Linked DNA regions of Homo sapiens. The protein of the gene in region 1 purifies or fractionates together with the protein of each later gene. This does not show direct contact. Each region holds a gene or a part of one and is shown in the gene's direction. Other genes may lie near its edges. The genes, in order: GNB4 and MTNR1B.

Region 1 (7,575 bases):
TATACCAACATGGTAAAACCTCATCTCTACTAAAAATAAAAAAAATTAGCTGGGCATAATCCCAGCTAGTCGGGAGGTTGAGGCAGGAGAATTACTTGAACCCAGGAGGCAGAGGTTGCAGTGAGCTGAGATCGCACCATTGTACTCCAGCCTGGGCGAGAAGAGTGAGACGCCGTCTCAAAAAAAAATATATATATATATATGTATATATATTTTCAAGGCCAAGCATGGTGGCTCATGTCTGTAATCCCAGTACTTTGGGAGGCCGAGGTGGGAGGATCACTTGAGGTCAAGAGTTTGAGGCCAGCCTGGCCAACATGGTGAAACCCTGTCTCTACTAGAAAAAAAAAAAAAACATGAAAGTTAGCTGGTCATGGTGGTGCCTGCCTGTAATCCCAGCTACTTGGTAGGCTGAGGCAGGATAATCGCTTGAACCTGGGAGGCAGATATTGCAATGAGCCGAGATCCCTACTGCATTCCAGCCCAGGAGACAAAGTGAGACTCTGTCTCGAAAAAAAAAAAATTATATATATTTATGTATGTATATATATATGTATGTATAGATTCATATAGTTTATGCTTCTTTTTAAATAGTTTCTGATTCTTTTTGGTATACCCTGATTAAGTGTTTTTTTCCTTATGAAAACTCTTAGGTTGGGAATGAGATAGTAAGAGGGGTCAAGAAGACTAATATTTTTAAAAAATCTTGGGAAGGCTTCATGTTTAATTAATATTGATCATTATTATTAAGGAAGTATTTTATGTGCTCTACAAATATAAAATTGGCTTTCTTACAGTTAAAATTGTAAATGTTTACTGTGATCATTTGCCTCTAGATTTTTATTTGTGGCTGGTTTTTTACTAAAGCATAGAGGTATATCTATTCTTTTTAGTTAATAGTCTGCAGAAGGCATTCTTATTATACATTTATGTATATTATTTATAACAGCACATAGGATTATTTTAAACTAATCATAATTTTCAGGAACATATTGATCCCATAACGGCTCTGTGGAATTATATACATTAAATTACCTTCAGTTACTATAAATGTACTTTATGTTTGCTTTTTTAACTCCTCACTGTTTCTAGTTCAAGTTATCTCATGAACTATGATTAAGGTAAAGAATAACATTTTTGTTGCTTTCAAAAGATTACATCAAATATGGACTCTGTGGGTCGAATACAAATGCGAACAAGACGTACACTGAGGGGCCACCTAGCTAAAATCTATGCTATGCATTGGGGATACGATTCCAGGTTTGTACCTGTCATTACCTGTCATTTTTAAACTGTTGCAGAATTATTTTCATTAAGAACCATCATTTGCATTTTCTTTGTTTAAAAACAGAATATATTCATGAAGCGTTTGCAGAAAATGCATCTCAGATGAACATGCTGCTTTCAATAAGAATATTAATTGACTCTTTAAAAGTATAAACATTTTTAATATGGAATCCAGGACAACTGTTCAGAAGAGGATTCCTTTTCTTTGCAGTGGAACATTGCAGACATTCTTTGTTTTTTAAATAGGCACAAAGCGTTTTTACTGTATATGAAGCTTGAAATTTCAGTTCATAAGCAAATACGTATTGAACACCTATGTGCAAGTTTTTGGATATTGCTATAGTTTGTTATTACATAAATTCGCAAATAATGGAAATTACATGAAACAAAGGTGTTTGTACTGAATACATCTTTTACTCCCTCGACTGCATCACAGAAAGGTGTGTGCTTGAATGTGCAAGCTGACCATCTGCAGGTGCACAGGCACACGCACAGCTGCTACGTGGCCTACAGTTAGATAGATTGCTCATCACTGTCATTCACTATGTGTATAAGGCTACAGCACAGCCTATGTTTTTCCATTGTCTGGCAATAGCAGATGTGTCTGCTATCACAGTGGTTTACTTGTTCCTTTGATTTGGTTAATCTTAATGGGAAATGCCTAAACCAAGAAACTTCTATGTTTTAATAGAAGTTGCACATTTATTCTCTTCTCCCAGGAGACACTAAAATTATAAAGTAGAAGAAGCCTCAATTGTTGCTCTAATTGGGATACTTGACCACAATAATATAGAACATGTGCCTCTTACGAAGGGATACATAAAATTATATAATTGGCAACTGACATAATGTCTTAATCTTTTTCTTTTTCTTTTCTTTTTTCTTTTTTTTTTTTTTTTTTGAGACAGAGTTTCACTCTTGTTGCCCAGGCTGGAGTACAATGGTGTGGTATCGGCTCACTGCAACCTCTGCCTCCCAGGTTCAAGGGATTTTCCTGCTTCAGCCTCCCAAGTAGCTGGGATTACAGACATCCACAACCACGCCTGACTAATTTTTGTATTTTTAGTAGAGAGGGGGTTTCACCATGTTAGCCAGCCTGGTCTTGAACTCCTGACCTCAGGTGATCCAACCGCCTCAGCCTCCCAAAGTGCTGGGATTAATCAGGTGTGAGCCACCGCGCCTGGCCGAATGTCTTATTCTTTTTCTTAAAGGAGTTGAAGATAAAAATAATTTACCTGTTGATAAAGCAAAATTTTAACTTAAAATATAGTAACTTGAAACAATGTTTATGGTTCTTGCTTTCCTTAAACGTTTTCTGAAGACTGTTAATCTTCATAGAAAAATGAAACCATCATCCAGGAACCTATCTCACATAGTCTTCCCACCCATCCGTGTTATCAATCCATTACTTAATGTTCTCCTCAACTCTTATGCTGATGATGCCAATTGATTTCTAAAGAATTTTCTTTAGATGCCATCCTATACCCCACTATCAGATAGATCTTCCCTTTTGTAAAACCTTGTAGTGATTGCTACCCAAGAATCTGATAATGTTATTTACCTCTAGGGAAAGGAACTGGGTGGCTGATGATAGGCCCAGGAAGGTGCTTTTTAAATTTTCTTCTGTATATCCTTTTTTATTTTTTGAATTTTACACCATGGTGAAAAGTAAAAATTCCAAACAAGGCTGGGCATGGTGGCTCATGCCTGTAATCCCAGAACTTTGGGAGGCCAAGCGAGTGGATCACTTGAGGTCAAGAGTTCAAGACCAGCCTGACCAACATGTTGAGATCCCATCTTACCAGTCGTGGTGGTGCACACCTGTTATGCCAGCTATTCGGGAGGCTGAGGCAGGAGAATCACTTGAACCTGAGAGGCGGAGGTTGCAGTGGGCTGAGATCGTGCCATTGCACTCTAACCTGGGTGTCACAGTGAGTGTCTGTCTCAAAAAAAAAAAAAAAATCCAAACAAAACAAAAAATTTAGTGGCTAAAATTACTTAGGAGTTCATACTCTTTAGTTTAACAAAGCTTTCTGCAGTTTAAGCCCAGTCTGCTTTTCTCAACTTATTTTTCCATTTTCTCACAAACTGTACTACTGGAAGACCCACAATTCCTGAAACAACACTCAGTGTATTTTTCTACCTGTCATTGATCTTACATAGCTTTCTCCTAAAATACAGCCTTTTCTGTATCTTTAGCTCTCAACATTTTCTTTCAAGACTCATTCTCTTGTGATTAACTCATCTAGCCATTGTTCCTCCTTTACTCTCCTGTGGCATTTATTTTATACCCCTCTTCTGACAGTTTTTACTTACTTGATTTAATATAAATATGAGTAAATGTCTTATCTTCACCAGATGGTAGAGGCCTCAAGAGCAGGCGATGTATCCTGCGTTGTACCTCTAGTATTGTCATATTCTCAGGCTCTCAATTGGTGTTTTTAGATTGGATGAAATATGGTTGTTAGGCTTCTATGTACATTCTTGTCATGAAATTTAAGTAAGTCAGTAAGTACTAAACCAGTCAGCTAATATCCACCCAAATCTTGTATAACTAAGATGTTGTTACCACAAAAATGTTTAATCATAGCCAGACATTTTTAGTCAGTTGCTAAATTTTATTTTATGAAATATGTTCAAGATTTTTGGCATGCAGCATAAATTTTTTAAAAGTTGGAAGAACATTTTTTGGTATCAAGTTTTTAGTTGGAAAAATTGTATTTTTCTGAATTATTCTACATTAATGCAATGCATAACCAATTTAAGCTATTTTTTCCCTCTAAGTGTCAAATTATTTTTGTGTTTGTTCCTCTAGGCTGCTAGTCAGTGCTTCTCAAGATGGAAAATTAATTATTTGGGATAGCTATACAACAAATAAGGTAGAATTTCTTCATAATTCTTTTAAATAACCTTATATTTGTTTGGCTGTTCACCAGTTCTTTCCTTTATTCTTTTACCTCAAACTTAAATTGCTTTCTGAGATAAATTTATTGTTTATTTTAATCTAGTTCTTCTCTTTTGTCTTAGTGTTTACTTTTAATGTTTAACCCTTTTTCATTTCCAAAGATGACTCTATGTTTTACTAGAGGGCTCATATTTAATATATGAATATTAGAAGAGTACCATTTTACATATACTAATAAATGATTTTTAAAAATTCCCATTTCCTAATATGACAAAGACCTTGAGATTTTTATTTCTAGTTTTGGATAAGTTAGATGGCTAGTGGGAAGCTCTTCTTTGGCCCGCTCCAGGCACTGATTTGTGCTTCTGGACTTTTTAGAAGATACAGTAGATTGGAGGTAAATGACAACTTACGTAGATCTCTTGGTGGTAAAAGACTGTGGATGGTCCTAATACATCCACTGGAAGGAATCCCCAGTTTAAAATAGTTGAGTGGTGAAAAAGCTTCAGGAATACTTTGATAAGCTAATACCTTTATACTCTGTGTATACATATTAGTATTTTTATTAAACATTTGAAAATACCATTTTGTGAAATAATAATTTCAACCTGATTGAGATTTTAAAGCTAGCTAAGACAATTTTGTAATATAATAGTTTTTCTTTATTAATCATCATTAAGCACATTATCTTTCAACTATATTTTCATAAAACAAAAAAAATGTATTTTAAGCGTATTATTTTAGGTTAAGTGAGAGCATAGTAGTAATCCTGCCACGTGTTGATTCCCTGTATGGACTGTTTAGCCGTGGTATTCTCATACACCTTTTTTCCATCTGACCTTCAAATGATTGGTGTTAGGGTAACAAGGCAGCAGACAGTGTTGTTTCTAGAGCAATAAAAAACTATCACCATTGTTTGAATGAGATCCCAGAATAAGGGCCTATTAATAGAGGGATGCCAGTGTTGTCTTTTCATGGAAGACTCATGTAATCGACTCTGATACTTGCTAATTATTTCCCTAGTTCTTGTTCAGAGTTATGTTGGAGGAAATTTCTCTTCTGAGCACTATTACAAAAGTGAAAATTCTATTAAAACCTCTAACATTTTACACTTAATTTTTCAAATGGCAGTATATTAACCTTGGAACATCTTTATGTTCATTATTTTATTAAGAGAATTATTTCCAAAAAGAGCACTTTTTGACTCAAATGATTTGATAATACAAAACAATAGGCATTTTAATGTGCGTTAGTGTTGTATTTTTCATGGTTCACTTTCTCAAGCCATTACATTATTTTATTTGACTTATCTTTCTTAGATGTGTTTAATTTTTAATAATATTTACTTCATTGTAAATGGGTTTATGCAATAGATGACTGTTTTTGTAATCTGAGTGATGTGTGGTGTGTGCCCTACAGATGCATGCTATTCCTTTGAGGTCCTCCTGGGTGATGACCTGTGCTTATGCTCCCTCTGGTAATTATGTTGCCTGTGGAGGCTTGGACAACATCTGCTCTATATATAACTTAAAGACCAGAGAGGGAAATGTGAGAGTAAGCCGAGAGTTGCCAGGTCACACAGGTGAGCTTCCCTAAATATTCTTTCCCACCACACGATTCCTTGTGTGGAATGTGCTGATCAAGGACAAATGACAGATTGTGCTCGGCTGGCTAAAGGATGAGGATTAATCGGGTGGGAATGAAATTATTATGAACAAAGGAAACATTAACTTTTTATAGTCATACAAACGTTGATCATAATTTTATTTTTCAAAAATAGCTGTATTGTTTTTGTAAAAAATGATAAATTTACTGCACAAAATTCAAACTCATGAAAAATAAAGCAAATAAAATGTTCTCCATTTTCTGCTGCCATATAACAATTATGGGATTGTGGCATCTGTACTCAATTACATAATTGAAAGTATGCATTAAGGTACATTAGTGAAGTGCTTTTCACCATGATAGTGTATTGCTTTGTTTGCCAGTGTGCCCATCATAGTTCAATAGTGTAGTATTGGGTTAGTGGTGTTAATCAGGAATTTATTGCCACTTATCTGGTATCTATCCATCTGAATTTTTAGCCATACTATTTGACCATGCTTTTACAAAATCTCTAGAATGGTGTTTTTCTGACATTTCCATATTTTGAAACACTGATGAATGCTAAGCATTCAAATGCCACATCTTTCATAAAGTCTTCACTGTTGTTCTTCTGATTTCTTACAATATTTTATTTTTTTAATATTTTTTATTTGAAAAAAAAATTTTTTTAACTGCTCCTTGCAGAGAAGGGCTAACTCATAGGCGGTGCACCCAGAGGCATCCTCTCACAGTATTTTAAAACTATTTCTCCAGGGTGCTTAACACAGTCGGCCATAGATTATAGTTCTTCCCAAGGTAATTGTCTTAGGTGGCAGGGGCTGTGTCTTATTCAATTTGGTAACTTTCAGAGTACCCAGCACAATGTCATTAACATAGTTAATGCCTAAGAATGGTTTGTGGATAAAATTTGGTTTATAGACAATGTAGGATTTGAAGTAACTAAAAGTAGAACTATAGACTATATTGACAAACACTTGTTGCCCAAGTATTCTATTTTTAAAAATATATATTGCTATTTCACATGGTAACTGAGTTATTCAATCAGTGATAACCTAAAATTTGCTACTCTTTATGCTGTAGGGTACTTGTCCTGCTGTCGTTTTTTAGATGACAGCCAAATTGTTACAAGTTCAGGAGATACAACTTGGTAAGTTTATTCCAGAAGCACACTGATTATGGGTTTGAGGGTGGTAGCAGGAACTGACATAAGAAGAAGTAATTGTCATGAAATTTTGTTTTTAATTACAGTGCTTTATGGGACATCGAAACTGCCCAGCAGACCACCACATTCACTGGGCATTCTGGAGATGTGATGAGTCTTTCTTTGAGTCCTGACATGAGGACTTTTGTTTCTGGTGCTTGTGATGCCTCTTCCAAATTATGGGATATTCGAGATGGAATGTGTAGACAGTCTTTCACGGGACATGTCTCAGATATCAATGCTGTCAGTGTAAGTGAATAGCATTTCTAGAGAAAATTTATTATGCATTTAAAGTGTTGAGCTCTATGGCATGATTTTAACAACAAATTGCCTTCAAGGATTCTTACAAGTAATGTGCTCTTATAACTTTGAATCTCCAAGTCATAAGGGTTTTTGATTTTTTAAAAAAGAAAGCTTCAATTCATAGTCCTAGATCTTTTTTGTTATTGTTGGATTTTTTTTTGTTGTTATTTTTTTGTTTTTTTGAGACAGTCTTGCTCTGTCGTCCAGGCTGGAGTGCAGCGGTGCAGTCACGGCTCACTGCAGCCTCGACCTCCTGGGCTCAAGCGATCCTCCC
Region 2 (8,313 bases), on another chromosome or scaffold:
TAAACTGGCAAACATTGAATTATACATAATTCATATGTAGATATATTTATATATTTAAATATGTATGTATTTATTTGCTAAACAATCGATTCTGGGCAGTGGGTGATAATAGAGAAACACTGACCGAGCTTACTTAGGGTCTCTGTATCCCGAGGGAAGGGTCAGACCCTTCCGCTTGAACATTGAGCTGTTAGATTAGATTCAAATCTGAAATAACCGGCACAGCAACTCCCATTCTGATTCCTCTGAAGGGAACGAAAAAGTCAGGAAAGGTAAAGATCATGCAACCAGCAGCAGAGAGAACATGCCTGCTCTGACCCCGCCCAGCCTGGCTCAACTACAGGATCGTCCGACTGGTTTCTGCCACAGGCATGTGCTGGGAAATATGAGGGAGGCTGCCCAGAAGGTGGTGGCTTTGTAGTTGTGTCTTGTTTAAACTCTTTTATTGTAGAGCATCCTTCTTTCCAGGCCATTCTTCACCTGAGGGAAAGATTAGGGCAGCTTCACGATGCTAGGCAGTGGTATATTTTTTTAGTGATCTGTATAAACCATTTTTTTTTCAAAGCTGACAGCAAGAACATCTGGAGTCTTACTCTATTTTCTCTCAGGGTTCAATCTACTCAACATTGTTGAGTTTCCCTATCTTTCTTGTGAGGTAACAAGGGTCTGTATATTTTAATATATCCCACTGCAAGAGTAAAATGGCCCCAGGTTCTAGGATCGGGCAGCCTAGGTTGCAATCCTAGCTCTGAAACCACTAGCTCAGCAACCTTGGGTAGGTTTCTTAACCTGTGTAAATCTCAGTTTCTTCACAGTACACAGTAATATGTTACATAGAGATGAGAGGATTAAACAAAAGAATGCAGATGTCCCCTATGTGTAATGCAGAGCAATTACTAGATATTAGCTGTGTGCTAGTTACTCTTTATAGCATTATTAAAAGTGCTTGTCAGCCATGCTACAAGCTGATTACCAAAAGAAAATTTTGCTTATTTTCTTTGTATATTTCATACTGAAGGAGTAAAAGCTGTCACACTTTATTTATTTATTTATTTATTTATTTATTTATTTATTTAGTGACAGGGTTTCACTGAGTTGCCCAGACTAGAGTGCCCTGGCATGATCACAGCTCGTTCAGCCTAGACCTCCCAGGCTCAAGCAACCCTCCTGCCTCAGCCTTCTGGGTAGCTAGGACCACAGGTGCATGCCATCGTGCCTGCTAATTATTTTATTTTTTGTACAGACAAGGTTTCACTTTGTTGCCTAGCCTCAACTCCTGGCCTCAAGTGATCCTCTGGCCTCAGCCTCCCAAAGTGTTGGGATTACAGGTGTGAGCCACTGTACCTGGACCTCATTACACACTTAATAAAATAAATAGATTGCATAATGCCACTGGTCACTCATCAGCCACCAACCTTGGCAATTCACTTCTCTGACAGTCTGTTTCCTTCTTTTCTAGCTGGGCCAATCACTGCTATCTCCCAAGATACCCTGGTTGAAAGATGTTTGGGAAAGGTTTCAAGTACTATCTGGAGTAAAAGGTGTTACTGTTGGGATACATGACAATGAGCTTCTACGGTCAGATATTCATTTGAGTTTGAACTTGGGATACGTGTTGAGAAAACCAGTTCTGCTCAATTTTTAAATCCTAGGACACTCGGTAAGCATTCAAAATGTTGATTTATTTCTTTGAGAAAACATCTAGTAATCTTGAAACTCTCTTGTCTTTTTTCCCTCTCCTTCTCCAGAGTTTGATTTTCTTCCCATAAAATTTCATTATACTGTTGGCAGCAACTATTATTTTTGCCTTTTGTACAAATAATCTTTTTAGTTTATATTCAGGCACAGCAGTATCTGCGATGCTATAGTTTACATTACAGTTCACTCTTGGTGTTGTACATTCTTTGGGTTTTGACAAATGTATAATGACATGTATTACCCATTATAGTATCATATGAAACAGTTCCTCTGCCTTAAAAATCCTCCGTGCTCAACCTATTCATCTTTCCCTCACCCCAAACTCTTGGCAACCACTAATCTTTTTACTGTATCCATAATTTTGCCTTTTCCAGAATGTCATATAATTGGAATCAAGAAACAGTATGTAGCCCTTTCAGACTGGCTTATTTCACTTAGTAATATGCATTTACAGTTCCTCCATGAGTGTTCATGGCATCATGGCTCATTTCTTTTTAACACAGAATAATATTCCATTGTCTGGATGTGCCACACAGTTTGTTTATTTATTCACCTATTGAAAGACATCTTGGTTGCTTCCAAGTTTGGGAATTATAAGTAAAATTGCTGTAAACATCGGTGTGCAGGTCTTTCTGTGGACATATATTTTCAACTCACTTGGGTAAGTACTAAGGAATACAATTGCTCGATGCGATGGTAAGGGTATGTGTTGTTTTGCAGTGCATCACCAAACTGCCTTCCAAAGTGGCTGTATCATTCCCCCACCATTTTAAGGCACAGCCTGGCCAGCCATGCCAGGATGTAGCATTGACTTCTTAGATAGGTGAACATCCCAATTCTTTGTGCCTATCTTGAGATATGCTATTATGGACAATCACATTCCAAGGCAGCATAGGGCAAATTCCTATGTTTCATGCTCAGTTTAACAAATGTGTGTTATTAGAGGGTGTGTCTGGATGGAGGTAACTTATACTGTGTCCAACTCACCTATTGCTATGTTGGCGTGTGAAAGTTGAGAAGTGCCACGATGTGTTTGCACCTGTAAGACAGGGAAGGCGTGGCTGTCTCTTCTTCCTGAAAAAGCCTCTTGGCTTTGACACTGCCCATTGGTGTCTCTTTCCCCTTTGCTGTTGCTCTCCTGAGGACATGTTGGTCATTCCTCCTCATTCACTGGGGATTCGCCTCCTGACTCATAGTTTTCCTTTTCTTACCCCACCATAATATCCACCCCCGACTTCTCAGTTCCTTTACCTTCTCATCTCTAACAACATTTTTCTCACCTTCCACCAGCAACCCACTACCCATAATCACCCTCAGAGCCTTCACAGCAACAGAATCTACATGCCTCAGACATCTCAGTTTCAAACAACTCACCCTTTCAGCACCACAACTTACATTTTCTGATTCACTCACCACAATTCCTTGAAGTCACAGGGCCTGCAATCTCTTGACTTTTCCTTTGTCTCACAGCCCATCAGCCCCTCTGTTTTCTCATCACCCCTCATTAATGTAAACCCCAGGATCCATCTTCTCACCAGGCCCCTGAACTTTCTTCTGTTATTTGCTCCTACCCAGCAGACCCCAATCCTGACTGAAATTCACTCTGCCTTCTCCATGCCTGTCCTGAGTAGCTCCAAGTTGCTGATTAACAACCACTGGCCAGGCTGAGTGGCATCATTTGAAGCCATCATCTCAAGCTGCAGGGGGACATTCATGCTCCTGACACGCCTGTTATACTTTACTAGTTAATGTTTCCACTTTCTGAAGTGCTCCTTCATATCTTTTTTTTGTCTTCAAATCTCCTACACTGTTCCCCTGAATCCTGGCTAATGGGTAGCCTCTATCTCCCTGAGAATACAGAAGCCAGACAAGAGTTCTCTTCTTTCCTCACACCAGTTTAGAAGTGCATCTGAATTTGCATCTGGCTTCTGATTCCTTTCTACTACAAGAAAGAAAGCCTCCCTCTCCTAACAAATAATATTTCTTCCTTGGGTTTTGGATGAGCTCACTTTAAGGAGTTCTGGATTAGCTCACTTCAAGGATGAGCTCACTTCACCTCTCCCTTCCCTCTCCCTTCCCTTCAACATCCACTCATGCCTCTGCATCATCAGCCCCTCCGTCTCCACTGCATCCTTCCTTCTTTTTTTCCCCCCTTTAAAGGAGAGGGGCAATATAACTTACGTAAAATAACATATGTAAAAATAACAATCCAGAAATTTTTTGGTGTTTGTTTCTCAATACCCACCCTCAAATGTAACCACTTTTCTGATTTCTATTAGAAAATAGATTAATTTTCCCTGATTTTGGACTTCCTATAACTGGAATAATATGGTATATATTTTTTGGTATCTGGCTTCTTTTGTTCAATACAACATATTTGTGATTAATCCATGCTGTTGTGTAGGTCAATCATCTTTATTGCTGAGTAGTATTCCATTGCAAGGTCATACCATAATTTGCTTATCCATTCTTCTGTTGGTGGAAATTGCAGGTGTTACCAGATTTGAGCTCCTATAAACAAGGCTGCTCTGGACATTCTTGTACAGGTCTTTTGGTGGAAATATACTTTCCTTTTCATTTGGAACTTCTGGTCATAGAATAGGTGTATATTTAACTTTATTAGGAGCTAACAGACAGCTCTTCAAAGTGGCTATACCATTTTGCATTCTCATAAAAGCAGTGTATGAGGGTTCTGGTTGCTTAACTTCCTCCACAAATATAGGATAATCAGTCATTTTGATTTTAGTGATTCTAATGGGTGTGAAAAGTGCTTTGGGGTCATAAGATTAGCCCCCATTAGAAGTTATCTATTATTATTATCACCAGATCACGACTCAAACATTTTTAATAAAGGGCACCTGAGTTCCTTCTTTATTGTAATCATGCCTCAATCTTCTTCTTGTCCTAACCCCTCCAAAAACCACATCATAACCCCCAATATTGGCCATACATCTATTTAAGTATTATGTGTAAATATATGTTGGTAAATATGTTAAAGTATTGGCTTTATAAAGAGGACCCAGTAGAGACATCATCAATGCCCCCCACAATACCCAGCGAGTGCTTGGAAAATGGCTAGGTTCGTATTTTTCTGCAGCTCCCTAGAATATAACAGTCTACCCTACTTTGTTCTGGGCTCTGTCCCCACATCTTAGGAGTTGCATTCTCTTTCGGGCTGCACAGCCCTATGGGACGTCAAACCTTGCCTTTCTTGACAACTGATGGGAGGTCCCTACCATCAGCACCTTCTCCAGTCTATCAACCTGGGTTGGACGTCCCTACCTAGACACAGCTTCTCTTGGGGACGCTGTGGAGGAAATCGGGGTCTCGGGTGTGGCTATATACTCAGGGACAGAAGCTAGACGCGCTCCGCAGCCTGAGGTGGGCCAGGCACCTGCTGGGCTCGGGGTGGCAGAGACAGCTGTGCGGTCCCAGCTGTTCCTGAGCGCACCGCTGAGGGACGCACTCCCTTCTACAACGGCTGCACCCCAAGTCCTCCTCCCATTCCTATATTTTTCTCCATCCCCTGCCCACGCTTAATTAGTTATCTCCTCCAGACCCCTCCCCACTGGCCTCCTCCCTTGCACACGCGAGCTGGGCAGGGAAGAGAGCGCCCGGCTCAGTACTGCGCGCGCCCTGCGGCTGTCCGGGGCCGCGCGGTGGCCAAAGCACAGCGCGGGAGAGTCTGCGATGTCAGAGAACGGCTCCTTCGCCAACTGCTGCGAGGCGGGCGGGTGGGCAGTGCGCCCGGGCTGGTCGGGGGCTGGCAGCGCGCGGCCCTCCAGGACCCCTCGACCTCCCTGGGTGGCTCCAGCGCTGTCCGCGGTGCTCATCGTCACCACCGCCGTGGACGTCGTGGGCAACCTCCTGGTGATCCTCTCCGTGCTCAGGAACCGCAAGCTCCGGAACGCAGGTGAGCACCATTCCTGATGCTGGGTGCTGGCATCGGGCCCTTCCTTGTCTTCTGATCTTGTCCCTGACCCCGGGATATGCGCTGCCTTTTCCCTCCTCAGCCCGGGCTCCCCTTTCCCTTCACTCTAACCTATTCCTTAAGTTTGACTCTGCACTCAAAAGTTAGGGTGAGTTTTGCCCCTCCGAAGTGCGGCTGCCCAGGACGCGCTTGGCACAGAGGGAATTGCGGAAAGTTTTACTGGCGCGCTTTTTGGCCGGGCGCCGGCGCTGTGGGAACCCACGCTGCTGGATGCCATCGCTACCCCGTCGCGCTCCAATGCGTGTCTTTCCAGAGGTGCCCACATCAGGCCACAGAAATCTCACCACCTGTACTTGACATCCCACTTCCTTCCTTGCCAAGCACTGTAGCTTTATGTAGTAGTCGCTTAGAAAATCCTTGCTGAAAAAATGAGTTAATCAATGGAAGCATTTCAGTAGGTTTTGTGTCAAAAACTTATCTCCAGGTCATCTGAAGACCCAATTCCAGTTGACGGAGAGTAAATGCAGAAATTGCAGATTCTGCTTGGACTGAACTAAATTGCTTTGAAATATTGTGGTCTTTTCCGAAGACTGGGAATTCCTGGGATTAACTGTGAAAATTAAAGCAATGATTTGGCTAAATCGTGTTGTAATCCTGAAAATATTTTTCCTATTTCAATCCACTCTCATTTCAATATTCCCCTAGTCAGGTCTTCAAAGAAACAAAACCAGAGTGGGGGGCAGTATCTGAACTCTAGCCCTCACAGGTCATGGGGCATGATGACCACTTCAGCTTAGGAAGGAGCTCAGTCACCTGTTTGTTAATTTTGCAGTTTCTTCAAGTTGGGCCTTGGGAGCAAATTCAAATATTAGAGTGAATTAAAATGGAAAGATAGCAGCAGTAAAACAACCATATAGCTTAAAAATGCTTTTCTAAGGAGTCAGACCATTTTTAGCAAATAGTAATATGTATTTGGTGTGGCCTGTGACTCTAGAAATTTTTTTTTTTTGAGATGGAGTCTCTCACTCTGTCACCCAGGCTGGAGTGCAGTGGCATGGTCTAGGCTCACTGCAACCTCTGCCTCCCAGGTTCAAGGGATTCTCTTGCCTCAGCCTCCCGAGTAGCTGGGATTACAGGCGCTCGCCACTACACCCAGGTAATTTTTTATATTTTTGGTAGACACAGTATTTCACCATGTTGGCCAGGCTGGTCTCGAACTCCTGACCTCAAGTGATCCACCCGCCTCGGCCTCCCAAAGTGCTGGAATTACAGGCATGAGCCACTGCGCCCGGCCAACTCTAGGATTTTTAGCTAAAAAAACAAACAAGAAACTCCTCCAACTGTGAGTATCCAGCCATCATATGGGAAACATAACATTATTAAGAAGAAGTAAACTTTCTAACTCACTTCAGTAGTGGTGGCTGTTTTCTGGAATACATTGTTCAAAATATTGTGTCCTTTGAAGAAAAGCTTATATATTAGGGAAAAACAGGTTATGATTAGAAAACTGCATTTAATATTTTTGACACATTGTCCCTTGCAGCCATCATAAACATTCATTTCCAGCACAGGGAAGCAAAAGGGAGACAACTCCTGGCTCTATGGGGGAGAAATGGGTCCTCCTGGTTCTGACATTGGCCCCTTCTGTCCCTGACTTATTGAGTATTTAGAGCAGGTCTGTCAGGCCATGGCTCCCTGCTCAGTAATTTGGATTGCCCACCATGAGAAAGGTGGTTGAGGGAAGTAGGAGTTGCTTCCTTTTGCTGGAAGGAGAAAAGCACCCCTCCCCTCCTGCATCCTACAGAGGGCTGGCCTTTTCTGTGATCCTGGCAGGGTCTGCAGAAACCTAACCAGTTTAAGAGCATCACTGGGGAGGGTCATGAGCATGTTAAATTGCTGGCATATCCTCTGTTCTATCTTTCCTACCTCCTGATGTGTCCGCTACAGCCCAGCACCCGAACAAAAAAAAATAATAATAACACTATATCTAAATGACATCAATTCCTGCCACTGCTGCAGTCTTGCAATTTAACCAGTTCTTATGTGACCTCTGGCTTTATTGGTGACAGTCACAAACAATTGTAGTACTGACTTGAACTAAATGATCTCAGCAGAGTGAGATTTCAAAAGGCGCTTAAAACCTACAGCTCTTTGAATAGTTAGCACACATTCTACTCTTAATCAGGCCTTGTCTTACTGAAGAGTTTGGATTTAATTTAAGAAACGCTTCTTCAGACCTTTCTGTACTTAAGTCTGGCTCCTTAAATCATTGGTATTAAAAAATTAAGTCTGTAACAATGAGAATACATATATTTCCAATAACCAAGATACATAGCCCATATTGAGGTCACAGCATGTTTCCCAGGAGACACCAGTATCCTTTACTTGCCTATCACAAACCCAGTTCCTCTATGGAGCAGATCTGTATCATTCCTAACAGTGCCGCTCCTGATGGCAGGGTGAGTGGTTAGATTAATTGTCTTTTTTTTTTCAGGGATATCCTATCTGTAGTGTCTGTTGCTGCATGTGGTGGGTTGACTTCAGAGATAGCACCAGAGAAAGGCAGACAGGGAGGAGTGGAGGCAAGGTGGGAGGTAGGGTCAGGGCACCGACCCAACTTAAAAGGTAAGGCCAAGTGTGTTCACTCTTTGCTACATTCTCAGAGTCTTGCACAGCCCATGGCA

What was found.
Region 2: the proteins of GNB4 (region 1) and MTNR1B purify together in Homo sapiens (tandem affinity purification; 2 studies listed by IntAct). This does not show direct contact.

The regions. Positions count from the first base shown.
Region 1 is NC_000003.12:179,413,084-179,420,658, reverse strand, and holds part of GNB4 (guanine nucleotide-binding protein subunit beta-4), read left to right. Parts: intron 1-1,153; coding exon 1,154-1,260; intron 1,261-4,102; coding exon 4,103-4,166; intron 4,167-5,611; coding exon 5,612-5,774; intron 5,775-6,877; coding exon 6,878-6,944; intron 6,945-7,045; coding exon 7,046-7,247; intron 7,248-7,575. UniProt on the Homo sapiens protein: Guanine nucleotide-binding proteins (G proteins) are involved as a modulator or transducer in various transmembrane signaling systems.
Region 2 is NC_000011.10:92,964,338-92,972,650, forward strand, and holds the start of MTNR1B (melatonin receptor type 1B), read left to right. Parts: upstream 1-5,313; 5' UTR 5,314-5,388; coding exon 5,389-5,611; intron 5,612-8,313.